2 separate regions of the Homo sapiens genome follow, and region 1 is linked to region 2. Evidence: fine-mapped expression QTL. Tissue or cell type: left ventricle. Region 2 holds a variant in brackets; the other region holds the start of a gene. All regions are shown on one strand. Distances are from middle to middle.

The links. PIP is the estimated chance that this variant, and not a neighbour inherited with it, causes the effect.
Region 1: it holds the start of SLC6A13, and the variant in region 2 is the best candidate, but not a certain one, in a credible set for the expression of SLC6A13 in left ventricle (GTEx, PIP 0.53).

Annotation. Positions count from the first base shown.
Region 1 is chr12:259,462-266,526 of GRCh38, reverse strand. SLC6A13 (solute carrier family 6 member 13) reads left to right here and starts at 3,691. Exons shown (of 15, transcript NM_016615.5): 1 at 3,691-3,738; 2 at 6,470-6,676. The coding sequence starts at 6,475.
Region 2 is chr12:238,659-246,714 of GRCh38, reverse strand. SLC6A13 (solute carrier family 6 member 13) reads left to right here. Exons shown (of 15, transcript NM_016615.5): 3 at 2,902-3,036; 4 at 3,961-4,101. Among named protein-coding and RNA genes, the nearest start is that of SLC6A13, 20 kb to the left of the region's middle. The variant C/T (reference allele first, on the strand shown) is at 4,414.

The DNA.
Region 1 (7,065 bases), 20 kb before region 2:
ACCAAAAAAACTTTATTTTAAGCTAATTTTAGACTTACAGAAAAATTGCAAAAATAGTACAGAGAGTTTCCATCTTTCACTCAGCTTCCCCTAACGTTAGCATCTTTCACAACCATAGTACAATTGTTAGAACGAGGAAATTAACATTGGTAGAGAACTATTAAACTAAAGACCTTATGCAACTTTCACCAGTTTTTACATTCATGTCCTTTTCTATTCCAGGATCCTATCTAGGATCCCATTCAGGACCCCACATTGCATTTAGTTGTGATTTTCCCTTAGTCTCCTGCAGCCTAAAACACTTGCTCAGTCTTTGTTGTCTTGTCTGTCTTGTCTTTCATGACACTTTTGAAGAGTAGTGATCGGTAATTTTGTCAAATGCCCCTCACTTTGGGTTCGTCTTATGTTTCTTGTGATTGAACCGCATGTTTGGCAAGAATACCACAGAAATGTTGTGTCACTCTTAGTACATCATATCCATGGTTCATGATATAGAGAGATATTGATGTCTTATTACTATCTTATTACTGGTGATGTTGACCTTGGTCATTTGGTTAAGGTGGTTTCTGCCTGGCTTCTCTACTTCAAAATCACTATTTTTCCCTTTGTAGTTAATAAATATCTTGGGGGAGACACTTTGGAATTGTAAAAATTCTGTTCCTCCTGGAACTTTCACCCACTAGTTTTAGCATTCATTGGTAGATCTTGTCTGCAACAATTATTATAGTGGTGTTTGTCTAATGGTGATTTTCTGTTTTTCTCTTTCCTTCTACATTTATTAAGACTTCTTTTTCTTTGAGATGGGGTCTTGCTGTGTTGCCTCAAACTCCTGAGCTTAAGTAATCCTCCCACCTCAGCCTCCCTGAGTAACTGAGATTACAGGTGCATGCCACCATGCTCGGCATCCTTCTATATGTATTAATTGGAATTCAACTGTAAGGAAGACTAGTCCTTTTATCCCACTTATTAACTTGTTGGTTATTTGTATCAGCATGAACTTATTAGTGAACTTTGTTCTTTGGGCTACAATCCAATACTATCATTATTCATTTTGTTGTTCAAATTATTTCAGTTATAGCAAAAGCCATAATTTGTTGTTTAGTCTGTTCTACTTGCTCTTTTCTTTTCTTTCAGTGTGATGTTTGAAAAGGGATCCAAAAAGTCAACAGGTTTCTGACTCCTGTGGTTAAACAGAACTATATCTCTTAATTTAAAGGTCTCCAGAGGAGAACCCACCACTTCCTTTGCCACCTTGATGTTGCTCAGAAATGTTCTTTCTTGAAACAAATCGTGCTGCTTTTAAAATTTGTTTCTGTGAAATGTCAAACTAGAAAAAAATTTTATTTGTTCTTATTCCACTCCTAGTAGAGTCAAACAATTTTTGGGAGAGCGTATCATGGCGTACTGTCATTTAAACATACCTGGGATCAACTTGGTACAAACCAGGACTCCTAGGCCTGCTTTTTGCGTGGTTCACTTTGTTTTATACAATCCTGTTGTTGGAAGCACAGCCTTCAATTATCCTCACTGACAATCTCTAGTGAGTCTTAAAACTTATGCAGCCTCTTGAGTAAGAACTGTTGAATACGGATTCTGTTGTTACCTGTTTTCAGGTTTCTTGACTTTGCACCCAGCAGACCAAAGGATGATGGCAACGTGAGGTAGATGCAAGGCTAGTCATGCCTGTTTTGTGTGGAACCCCAGACGGGAAGTTGTGAGGGACTGTCGCCAACATTTATCTACCAGTGGTTCTCAAGCTTTTTTTTTTTTTCTTTAACTTTTGTCAACCTAAGCAGGACAAAAAACCTACCATAGCCATTCCCACTTTATAGAGGAAAAAGAAATTGGGGATAACAAAGATTTGGAGAGGAATAAAATAGGAGTCAACATGGTAACATGGCAGCAGTTATGTAAAAACAAAAGAGTTGGTAAGTAAAGCCAACATTCCTTCATACAACAGCAGCAGCTCACAACCAACTCAGGATAAGCCTGATGATGTCCTTATCACTGACAGTCTTTCCTGGAAGCTGGAAATTGCAACCGTTTGCATATGTGAGGACACAGAAGGGGCTGTGCAACATTGCCAAAGGCTGAATGGTATCTGAGAAAACACCCGTTATCTGGTAATTTTAGATTACAAATGCCAAAGTTTATAATGCATAGTAGGCCATTAGTAAGTACCACTCAGTGATACGTAAAAATGGAAGTCAATAGCACTGCTTTGAAGATGGTCTTTTTTTTACATGAGTTTGTAGGCTGTCTCAGGACGCTTTTGGTTTATTGCTTTACAGAGCTCAGTCTAACAGATGAAAGCTTGAAAGGGGAGAGGAACAGGGGCCGCTGAAACATAAGAATAATAATTTCCAAGAAGCTTCTGGGAAGCTCTCCAGGTATTACCATGCAGTGTTTCCATGCCCCTACCCCATGCCCTTGAGTTAGATGAGGGATCAAGGAAACGGAAACTACCTTAGACTCTTCGATCCGTCTTTCTTTCCACACTTCTCCGTCATCTCAAGATGTCTCTATCACCTCACTCACTCATTGCCGCATCCCCTACCTAACTCATTCTCACAGTCTGGCCAGAGCCCAGCTTAGCTCAGGGGTCTCTCAGTCCCGTCTCCTTCAAGAAGACTTCCGGGCTCACTGCTCACTGTGAATAATCCCTTAAGGATGAATAACAGCTGCCATTTACAGTTAGTCATCATCTCCTGAAATCTCAAGCTAGACAGTGGCATACGTAGGACTCAGACCCCACACTCTCTGGTGTCAAAGTCTGAGCAGGTTTCCACTACATGTACTGTGCTTCAGCACATGGCTGAGGTGGGACTCTGCCCTGTCCTAGACTCCAGGCTGAATGAACTACTCTCACAGCCGCCTCTGTGGGCTGTTCCTGCAGAGAAACGAAGCTCCCTGGATGACCTCGGCCTCGCGCTCACCGCCTGCTCCTTCCCTTATAACAGCTTTAGGGCTTTGCTTTATTTTAAACGTTGGCACTTCCTTTTCTCTATTGATTTAAAAAATATTTTAAAATTCTAGCATATTAAAAAATCTAAACAATATTGAAAAAGTGGGGAAAAAATCTCCCTTACTGCCATCTCCTGATCTCAGTTCCACTCTACAAATGTAACTACTATTAATCATTTAGCGAAGATTTTTTCAGACTTTTTCTATATGTGTATAAATGTCTGTGTATGTTTGGGAAGTTTTTCTGACATCTCAGAGTTCTGTATCTATGTATCTTTGTTCTAAATCATCGTCCATTCCACATTGCAAGCTGCGAAACGGTAAGATAAATGTATTTTTAAATTAATCTACACAGCACCTGACCAAAGGAATACCTATTCTTGATGGATTTATAGGAGCACTTGTGTTGGAGACAGGGGTGGGAGGCAGGATCCCTCCAGAGAGACCCTGAGCTCACCAGGTGGGAAGCGCACATGAGCTCCGGGGAGGAGACCACACTTCATAAGCTCACCAGCAACTGGCCCGACCTGCCAGGGCGTGCACACTCCCCAGACTGCGAAATCACTCATGTGTGGGTTGTCCAGTGGCCGAGGGGAGGGGAGGGGAGAAAAGGGGAGGGGGAGGCACAAGGGTGGAATGTGGGCTGGGCCAAGTTTAGAATTTCAAGTGCCACAGAGGCGTTCTGGAACCACACTTTAAATAGCCAGCACCTTCTCCTTCCCCCTTAGATAATTCTTCTCCCCTGACTGGACCTCTGGCAGCAGCTTCACTAAGGTTCGAAATGTTTTCTTCTCTTTTTTTTCTATTTCTGCGTCTCAGACTGCAGGTTGGTGGGATCCATGGGACTTACAACCAAAGGACTTTTTTCTTACCCTCGCCTAGAAAGTACGCTTCTGACATGTATGTGTGCAAATGCAAAGATTATGTGCTATTTTCTTGACTTTCTGAAACTTGGGTGGCTGTTGACTTAAGTGACACTGTGATTTGGAAAGAGAGAGCCCTAGATTGAGAGGAAAGACAACTGGATTTAACTCCAAGAAAACAAAGTCTTTCTTCTCTGAGAAAAGAGAACAATGATCAACTCTGACAGGACTGAAAGAAAACAAAAATTTGAGTACCTGTTATTCTATTAAGTGTGTATACATATGTATATTTCCTCATTTAATTCTTATAGCTAAGTATATCCTATCTATCATCCCCACTTTTACAGATGAACAAACTAAGGCTCAGAGTCATTCATTAACTTCTCTGAAGTCAGACATTGGTATGAGAAAAAACTAATGTTTGAACCTGGCCTCATCTGACTCTACAGCTCATGACCTTTCAGACACAACATGCTACCTCTGAGAAGCAGCTCTAATGAGGCTAAGGGAGCCAGGAGAAGGCTACTGTTTCTCCTAGGGTCTGGGAGGGTGGAGAAGGGAAGGCTTTCCATCACTGGGAGAGATCCATCAGCTGGTAAAGGGAGGGGAGGCCAGCACAGTCAGTACCTTAGACAACCTTCCCAAAAGGACTGAGGAGCCCTCTTGGGACCAGTTACTTGAGTTTCTCCTTTGTAGAAAGGAGCTCATTCCCTAATTTATCAGATAAACATAGATGCCTGCTGTTCCCTGACTTTTTTTTTTTTTCTTTTTTTTGAGACAGAGTCTCGCTTTGTTGCCCAGACTGGAGTGCAGTGGCGCGATCTCGGCTCACTGCAACCTCTGCCTCCTGGTTTCAAGCGATTCTCCTGCCTCAGCCTCCTGAGTAGCTGGGATTACAGGTGCCTGCCACCATGCCCAGCTAATTTTTGTACTTTTCGTAGAGACGGGGTGTCACCATGTTGGCCAGGCTGGTCTCAAACTCCTGACCTCAGGAGATCCACCCGCCTCGGCCTCCCAAGTGCTGGGATTACAGGCGTGAGCCATTGCACCCGGCCTGTTCACTGACTTTCTAATTTTCTGGGTCAGAGCCAAAGTAGAGTCTGTGGCCAGAAGAGGTTACTGCTGAGAAAGTTCTGTTAACATGAACTTTGCTTGAGGCTTAGAAAAAAGTCCATCTGCCTCCTTCTCCAGAAAAGAGGCCACTCTGCAAAATCAAGGCAGAGTCATTAGAAGATGCTTTTAGTAGACACACCAGTGAACCTAGGCAGCCAATGTAATCAAAGGGATGGAACTGAAAGAGCAGGGGCAGAGTGGGTTTAAGTCCTGGCTGTGCAAGTTAGTAGCTATATGGCAGCAGCAGTCACATTATTTAACCTCTCTGAGCTGCAACTTCCTTATTTATAAAGTGGAGGTAATAATGCTTACATCTCAGGGTTGTTGTGAGAATTAAATGAAAAGAATGTATGTGAAGTGCCTAGTCTATAGTAGTTGCTAACTAAATGTGGGCCACGTCCAGTCATCCTCAATCCCAACAGTGGTCTGGAATGGGCCATTTCTGACAGTGAATGGTTAAAACTGTGGCTTTTTATTTATATCATCTTCTCTACTGTCACAGACTCCTAATTTGTCATCACCAAAAAAGAAAAAGAGCGCATAGTAAATCTCTGCCTTACGCTGATTTCAGAGAGACATAGAAGGAGTACTTAGACCACCTCATCTTACTCACAATTCCTGGTCCCACTCAACCTCTCCCAATCCTTTGACAGGATTTTTTTTTAAAACCGGCTTTTATTTTTATATTACAAAAGTAAAACACATTTTTGATGTAATTGTAGAAAATATAGATAAGGAAATGTTCCTATAACCCAACTGCTGAAAGAAAAACATTTTCATGGCTATCCTACTCCTTCAATGCCTATAAATACTTTATAAAATATTTGTCAAGCATGATCATATTGTATGTACTGTTTTTTACTATATATTGTGAGCACCCTTTTGTGCCGATATACTTGTTTCTATAACACAGGTTTTAATGATTATATATAGTAGTCCATTATATGAATGTGCCATAATTTATCAACATATCTACCATTTTTGACAATTTATGTACTTTCCGATTTTTCGCTGTTATGAACAATAAATATCCTAATGCTACACCTTTCACTCACAATCACAATTATTTCCTTAGCATAAATTCCTGCAAGGGAAATTGGTGGCTTTGAGGACATGTAAAATCCCATCCTTTCAACGTGTCCCAGCATACAGAGTAAACAGACTGAAGCACATGCTAATCCCGACGAGGCTGACTGTAGGGTGGCAGGGAGAATTTAGACAGCACAGCGGCCCATGAACTCCTCCATGTCTGCAATCCTCAACCCAAGAGGGCCTTATAGTGGAAGCAAAGGCTGTCTGTCAGTACCAACACTTTCTTCCTGAAACAGGAAAGGAATATATGTTTTCAGTAGCTGTCACCCAGCTTCTACCAATGAGAACTGCTAAGGAGGACATGGTCTACAGGGAAGGGAATAGAAATTCACCTCTTCCAGTGCATTCATTCCCTTATGGATTTGTTGGTAAAAGCAGGAGGAGGGGTTTCCTTCTGGGGTTCCCAACAGTAACAGAGCATCCCACTTGTTTTCCAGGTGGGATGGATAGCAGGGTCTCAGGCACAACCAGTAATGGAGAGACAAAACCAGTGTATCCAGTCATGGAAAAGAAGGAGGAAGATGGCACCCTGGAGCGGGGGCACTGGAACAACAAGATGGAGTTTGTGCTGTCAGTGGCTGGGGAGATCATTGGCTTAGGCAACGTCTGGAGGTTTCCCTATCTCTGCTACAAAAATGGGGGAGGTGAGATGAGAGCCCTTGTGCCACCCCACCCACTCCTGGAAGGAGGATACTTCCATCTCCTGCACTTACGGCCCCTCTGGGGAGTCCCATAGATGTATAGAATTCTGGAGGTAGGAGGACGCTTAGAGGTCATTAAGGACACTCTGTAAGAGACTAAGACCTAGAAAGGTTACGTGACTATCCCAGGGCTCTTTCTATTATAACGTGGCATCGTAGAAATATGAGCACAAGCTGGAACCAGGTGGATGAGAGTTTGGATTCTGGCTCTGCTACTTAACACTCTGTGTGATCTTGGACAAGTTACTTAAGCTCTCAGAGCATCAATTGCCGCTCCTGCAAATTGAGATAATAATGCCTGCCTTTCAAGGTCATTGTAAGGATTAGAGACA
Region 2 (8,056 bases):
TTTTCTCTCTGTGTTTTATTTTAGATAGTTTCTATTATGGTTCAAGGTCACTGATCTTTTCTTCTGCTCTGCCTACTAACATTAATCCCATCCAATGTATTTCTTTAAATCTCACACACTGTAGTGTTCATGTTCAGAAGTTTTATTTGGGTCTTTTTCAATATCTTTTATATCCCTAACTTTTGGAACACTTGCAATACAGTTATAATAACTTTTAAATATTCTCATCTGCTAATTCTAACATCTTTGTAAATTATGGGTCAGGTTCAATCTCCTTGCTATGAGTAACATTTTCCTGATTCTTTGCTTTCCTGGTAATTTTCGATTGAATACCAGACCTGGTAATATTTTTGCTTTATGGGTTGCTGGATAATTTATTTATTTATTTATTTATTTTTGAGACAGAGTCTCACTCTGTTGCCAGGCTGGAGTGCAGTGGAGCGATCTCGGTTCACTGCAACCTCCATCTCCCGGGTTCAAGCAATTCTCCTGGTTCAGCCTCCCAAGTAGCTGGGACCACAGGCACATGCCACCATGCCCAGCTAATTTTTGTATTTTATTTATTTATTTATTTATTTATTTTTACTTTTATTTTTTGAGATGGAGTCTTGCTCTGTCACCCAGGCTGGATTGCAGTGGCACAATCTCGGCTCACTGCAACCTCCGCCTCCTGGGTTCACGCCATTCTCCTTCCTCAGCCTCCCAAGTAGCTGGGACTATAGGCACCCACCACCACACCCGGCTAATTTTTTTGTATTTTTAGTAGAGATGGGGTTTCACTGTGTTAGCCAGGATGGTCTCGATCTCCTGACCTCATGATCCACCTGCCTCAGCCTCCCAAAGTGCTGGGATTACAGGCTTGAGCCACCGCGCCCAGCTAATTTTTGTATTTTTACTAGAGATGGGGTTTCACCATGTTGGCCAGGATGGTCTCGATCTCTTGACCTCGTGATCTGCCTGCCTTGGCCTCCCAGAGTGCTGGGATTACAGGCGTAATCCACCACACCCTGCCTTTTCTTTCTTTCTTTTTTTTTTGCGACAGAGTCCCACTCTGTTGCCCAGGCTGGAGTGCAGTGGCACGATCTCGGCTCACTGCAACCTCTGCCTCCCAGGTTCAAGCAATTCTCCTGCCTCAGCCTCCCAAGTAGCTGGAGCTACAGGTGCGTGCCACCATGCCAGGCTAATTTTTGTATTTTTAGTAGAGACAGGATTTCACTATATTGGCCAGGCTGGTCTTGAACTCCTGACTTGGTGATCTGTCCACCTCAGCCTCCCGAAGTGCTGGGATTACAGACGTGAGCCACTGCACCCGGCCAATTTCGTATTTCTGTAAATATTCTTTAGCTCTGTTCTGGGATCAGTGAAGTTACTTGCTCTTTTTATATCTTGCTTTTAAGATTGGTTAGGTAGCAATAGAAGTGTGCTCGGTCTAGGGATAATTATTCCCCGTTACTGAGGAAATGCCCTTCTGCGTACTCTGCCTAATGCCTGGTGAATCTTGAGATTATTTACTCTGGCAGTGTGTGAGCACCATTACTTTTAATCATTTTGAATGGTTCTTTCCCTCACCTCAGTTTTCTCACACATATGCACTGACTAGTACTCAGTTGGAAGCTTGAGGGGGACCCTCTGCAGATTCTCCTGTCTGTGCAGTTCTGTCTTCTCTGGTACTCTGTGTCCTATGAACTGTGCTGTCCACTTTGCCAGCAGATGACAGGTCCATGGTAGGGAAAATACCAGTATATCTGGCATCAGTAGTCTTGTCTCCGCCAATGCTTATAAAAACAGAAGGAGACAGATTACTAGCTTAGTTCATTTTGTGTTGCTACAACAGAACACCTGAGATGGGTAATTTATAAGGAACAGATATTTATTTATTATAGTTTTGGAGGTTGGGAAGTCCAGGGCAAGCAGTCCACCTCTGGTGAGGGCCTTCTTCTTTGTGTCAGCCCATGGCAGAAGGCAGAAAGGCAAGAGAATATTCATATAAAAGACAGAGAGCCAAATACACTTTTTTTTTTTGGACAGGGTCTTGCTCTGTCACCCAGGTTGGAGGGAGGGCAGTGGCACAATCACAGCTCACTGCAGCCTCGAACTCCCAGGTTTAATCAATCCTCCCACCTCAGCCTCCCGAGTAGCTAGGATTACAGGCACACACAGCCATGCCCAGATAATTTTTTGTATTTCTTTTAGAGACAGAGTTTTCCCATGTTGCCCAGGCTGGTCTTGAAGTCCTGGGCTCAAGCGATCCTCCCACCTCAGCCTCCCAAAGTGCTGGGATTACAGGCGTGAGCCACTGTGCCTGGCCCAAACTCACTTTTATAACAAACACAGTCTCACAGTAATAACATTAATCCATTCATGAGGGCAGAGCCCTCATGACTTACATCTTATTAGGCTCCACGTCCCAACACTGTTGCATAGGGAATTAAGTTTCCAACCACGAACTTTAGGGGATACATTCAAACCATAACAATGACTGAAAGGGCATCTGATTTCAGCTTACTAAAAGACTACCTGACGTTAAGAGCAATGCTTTCTTTGAAAAGAATTATAGACTGTGGGCTGTGCCAATGCTCCTAGACATCCATTATTTAATAAGCTCCTTGTTATTGCCACAAGTTATGTGTTAAGCAGTAATTGTTCAGTGGGGAACAAACTTTAATAGGTATAGACTGAAACTGCAGTGAAAAAAGGCAAGAGGCTGTGTAGATCTTAGATAATGGGGTGACTCTTGATCTCTGCTATGTTCCAAACATCTAGACAGCTGTCTCCTGCAGTTTTGCATGTTCTCTGCCTCCGAGATTCTGACTGGCAGTATGGGTTGGTAATGGGAGGAGGTGAATGCAGACCATGAGGAGAATAGTCCCAGGAAATGAACAGCCTGTTTTCTAACCACAGGTGCCTTCTTCATCCCCTACCTCGTCTTCCTCTTTACCTGTGGCATTCCTGTCTTCCTTCTGGAGACAGCACTAGGCCAGTACACTAGCCAGGGAGGCGTCACAGCCTGGAGGAAGATCTGCCCCATCTTTGAGGGTGAGTAGCTCTGTACCTGACTCCAAAGCGTCTTCATTCGTGGTTATAAACCTTGTTTGGAATGACTTGAGTGATTAGTAGCAGTTCTGAGGTTAAGATAAGATCCCGAGTCTCTATGCTAAACCCTTGGTTTGTGGGCTGCATACTGAGCTAGTCAGCTGATCTATCAGAGAATGGGCAAGAAACAGCAGTGAGGATGGGGCAGAGGCTTTAGGTTAGGTAAGTAGAGTGCAAAGCCACTTTAGCCATATGTTTTAAACACATAACAATGTTGTTGTATTTTAAGACATATTTAAATCAATTATAAACATTTTAAAAGAGAACTTTAAATGAGAAAAAATTATTTCATTCATAGTTCTATCTTGGCCGGGCGTGGTGGCCCATGCCTGTAATCCCAGCACTTTGGGAGGCCGAGGCAGGTGGATCACCTGAGGTCAGGAGTTCGAGACCAGCCTGGCCAACATGGTGAAACTAAAATACAAAATACAAAAAATACAAAAAATTAGCCAGGCATGGTGGTGGGCACCGGTAATCCTAGCTACTCAGGAGGCTGAGGCAGGAGAATCTCTTGAACCTGGGAGGCAGAGGTTGCAGCGAGCCGAGATTGCACCACTGCACTCCAGCCTGGGTGACAAGAGCAAAACTCCATCTCAAAAAAAAAAAAAAGTTCTATCTTGACACAAGTATTTAAAATTTACAGTATTTAATTTCATTATTTCTCCATATATAGGATTTTCTTTACGTTTTTATTTTGAAATAATTATAGATCCACAGGGAGTTACAAAAATAGCAGTTTCCCTCAATGGTAAATTGAACTCCCAGCCTCAGACAATCCTCTCACCTCAGCGTCCCGCATAGCTGAAATGACAGGTGCACGCCACCGCTGTCCACCGTTCCTAGCCCAATTCTGCAGTTTCCCCGCAGGCATTGGCTATGCCTCCCAGATGATCGTCATCCTCCTCAACGTCTACTACATCATTGTGTTGGCCTGGGCCCTGTTCTACCTCTTCAGCAGCTTCACCATCGACCTGCCCTGGGGCGGCTGCTACCATGAGTGGAACACAGGTATGGTCCTCACCCAAGGGTCCACTTCCTCCTCTCGTTCTGCCACATTAACCGGAATTGGGCTTGTCACTATATCCCCGCTTAACACGGACACACCAGAAATCACCCAAGTCGACCATGGAGAGCTTATGTCAAGAATAAGATCAAGAATTCACCAGCGTCACAGGCAAATGTCAGGAACTTTTTAAAGAAAAAATTAACATATTCAATGAGAACTGACCACTTTTATGTTGTTTAGCCATTTGCTTAAATCAATTTGAAATATGGTTAGTTTGATATATGGATATATGTTTTGTTCATTCATTTGTTTCG[C/T]GTATCTTCTCTCTGGTACGTTTTAGGTCTTTCAAACTTGCAATTCATCTGGACTTGCTTGTCAGGGGTGGCAGAGGCGGGAGAAAATCCACGTATAAGTGGACCCGCACAGTTCAGATCCATGTTGCTCAAGGGTCCACTGTGGTTTATAATAGCAGTTACAGTCACGTGTCGCTTAATGACAAGGGTACACTCTGAGAAACGCGTTGTTGGCAATTTCGTCCTTGGATGAACACAGCACAGAGTGCACACCCACATGGCCCAGCCCATCGCACACCTGGGCCGTCTGCTATAATACTGTGCCGAACACTGTAGGCACTTGCAGCACGATGGTAAGTATTTGTGTATCTAAACATAGTGCAACATAGGAAAGGTACAGTAAAGATGCCGTATTTTATAATCAAATGTGAACACTGCCATACAGGTGATCCACTGTTGGCTGAAGCGTTGCTATGTGCTGCATATCTGCAATTTCTCCTGTGCTTATACGACTACCTGAGCCACCCATGGCAATAGAAATACTGAGTCTAATGTATAAAAAGTAACAACAACAAAAATATCTAGGGCAATGCTGTCCAAAAGAACTGTCTGTAATGATGAAAATGTTCTTTGCACTATCCAATATGGTAGTTCTTAATACCAGCTACATGTGGTTATTTATTTATTTACCTTTCACGGGCAGTCCCACTGAACCAGTGTAGGTTTGGAGTGACTCCTATGTGTGGTTATTGAGCACCTGAAATGTGGCAAGTGGTCTGAGGAACAGAACTTTAACATTTGCATTGAATGTTAACTTAAACAGCCACAGGTGGCTCGTGGCTGCCCTGTCGGACGGCATGGCTGGAGAGCACGGTGGACGCTGTTCTGCTTGGATTCTTGGCACATCCCTCTCTCCTTGTCCAAGTATCTTCCAGCACCAGTCAACAAGGCCCTAGCCCTTTGAAGTGGGCTAGCCATGATTAATTCTTTCTTTTTTATCTTTTTTATTTTTATTTTTTTGAGATGGAGTCTCGCTCGGTCGCCCAGGCTGGAGTGCAGTGGCGCGATCTTGGCTCACTGCAACCTCCACCCCACAGGTTCAAGCAATTCTCTGCTTCAGCCTCCCAAGTAGATGGGATTACAGGCGCCTGCCAACACGCCCGGCTAATTTTTGTATTTTTAGTAGAGACAGGGTTTCACCATTTTGGCCAGGCTGGTCTTGAACTCCTGACCTTGTGATCCACCTGCCTCGGCCTCCCAAAGCGCTGGGATTACAGGCGTGAGCCACTGTGCCCAGCCCAATTCTTTCTTGCTCAGATAAGTTAATTCTGAACTGGAGTTTGAATCCTTTACTTGCCCGGAAAAGCATTTTTGCACGGTTAGGATGATATTCTTCATCCCTTCATGACCTGACTCCTGTCTGTGTCACCACCTCACCTTTACCTCTCTCACCTTGTACTTGATGCTCCCCTTCCAGGCACGTCTTTGTGCATCACTGCCACCACCTCCATTCCACCGTTATTTTTCAAAGGGAAAGTAAACCTTGGGGGTACCTCCTCCGACACCCCAGGATGGCATTAGGTTCTTGTTAAATGTGTCTGGTAGCACCTGCACCGGCCCCGGCCCTGCTCCTGCACTTCCCTCACTTTTCATCTGTTTGTTGATTTGGTTTTCCCACTAGTCATCAAGATCGTGAGGGCAGAAAAGGTGTCTTTATCTCCACAGCTTCTGTGCCTAGCACAGTGCTGGCTCTATCGTAAGCACTCAAAAATATTGATCGAATGAATCAAGGTTTAAAGATCTGTTTTATTATAATTAGTCTGGGGGCGGTGGCTCACGCCTGTAATCCTAGCACTTTGGGAGGCCGAAGCCAGTGGATCGCCTCAGCTCAGGAGTTTGAGACCAACCTGGGCAAGACGATGAAACCCCATCTCTACTGAAAATACAAAAAATTTGCCAGGGGTGGTGGTGCACACCCATGGCCCTAGCTACTTGGGAGGTTGAGACAGGAGGATTGCTTGAGCCTGGGAGGTGGAGGTTGCAGTGAGCCGAGATTGTGCCACTGCACTCCAGCCTGGGTAATAGAGAAAGACTTGGTCTCCAAAAAAAATCTGTTTTATTATACTTCTTTAGCTTTATATATATTTTCTTTTCTTCCTTTTTATTTTTTTAAATATCTATGTGTACTGAGACCACCCTTGACAACCAGCCTGTCAGACAGTAAAGATTTTATCCAGATCTCAGTGGAGTCCCTCTTGAAACAATTTTGTCAATTTTTGGTGGCCTAGAGCTTTTGCTTCAGGGCTTCATTAGGCCCACCTTCCTTTGGATTGCCTGGGGGTCTCTGGGACAATTCTGAGGCACATTAAATACCTGAGTATTATTTTTTGACATTGTTGACATCTCTCTTAGTGAGCCTGGTTTTACTCAGAGCCTAGCATTTGAATAGCACGAGACACGCTGTCCCGCCAAGATGAAATAATGCTTTTCTGGGTGCACTGCAGCGTCCAGGAAAGTGAATGGTTTAGTGGAGAGAGCACCTAGCTGGCCTTCAGTCACCCAGCAGATACTTGTTGAGCTCCTGCTATATGCCAGGCTCTGTTCTGAGCACCAGAAATATGGTAATAAACAAAAACAAAGACCCCACCCTCCTGGGGCTTTCATTGTAGCGATGGGAGGTAGACATAAACAAAACAAGTGAATAAGAAGTGTCTGCTTAGAAAGCAGCAGCACATGTCGTGTTAGAAGATGGGCTATGGAGGAAAATAAAACAGAGACTGTGAGTTTCATGGGTGGGATTGCAATTTTAAGTGGCATGGTCAGGAAAGGCCTTACTGAGATGCCCCTTCAGCATTGGTCTGAAGGAGGAGGGGGAACGAGTCATTGAGCTGGGGGACAAGAACTCTAGGAAGAAGGAACTGAGGAGGCACGGCATCTAACACACCCCACGTGTGCAGGGAACCGGGTGGACGTGGTAGAGCCGGTGGCTGAGGGGAATGGTGTGGGAATGGATCCAACACACCCCACGTGTGCAGGGAACAGGGTGGACGTGGTAGAGCCGGTGGCTGAAGGGAATGGTGTGGGAATGGATCCAACACAACCCATGTGTGCAGGGAACAGGGTGGACGTGGTAGAGCACGTGGCTGAAGGGGCAGGGAACAGGGTGGACGTGGTAGAGCATGTGGCTGAGGGAAATGGTGTGGGAATGGATCCAACACACCCCACGTGTGCAGGGAACAGGGTGGACGTGGTAGAGCAGGTGGCTGAGGGGAATGGTGTGGAATGCATCCAATATGGCCTTGAAGGCAACTAAAGGGGCTGCAGCTTTTTTCTTTGAGTGGGACGGGAAACCCACGGGAGGCCTTTACCTGGGGTGTGACATAGAGTGATCTAAGGTTTAACAAAATGGAGATTCCACGAGGGGAACAAGGGTGAAAACCGAAGGCCAGGTAGGAGCCGGGAGCTGATGCTGCCACCCTGTACCGGGTGGTGGTAGAGGTGACAGAAGGATCAGTCTGGATATTTTGAAGGTGGAACCCAGACAATTTGCTGACCTGGGTTCCAGCCTACACTTGGTCATTCATGAGCAGATACAGGCCATTTCTAAGAAGATCCACCGTCTTCATGGGCACAATGGGGAAAACAGTATCTGTCTTAATATTTC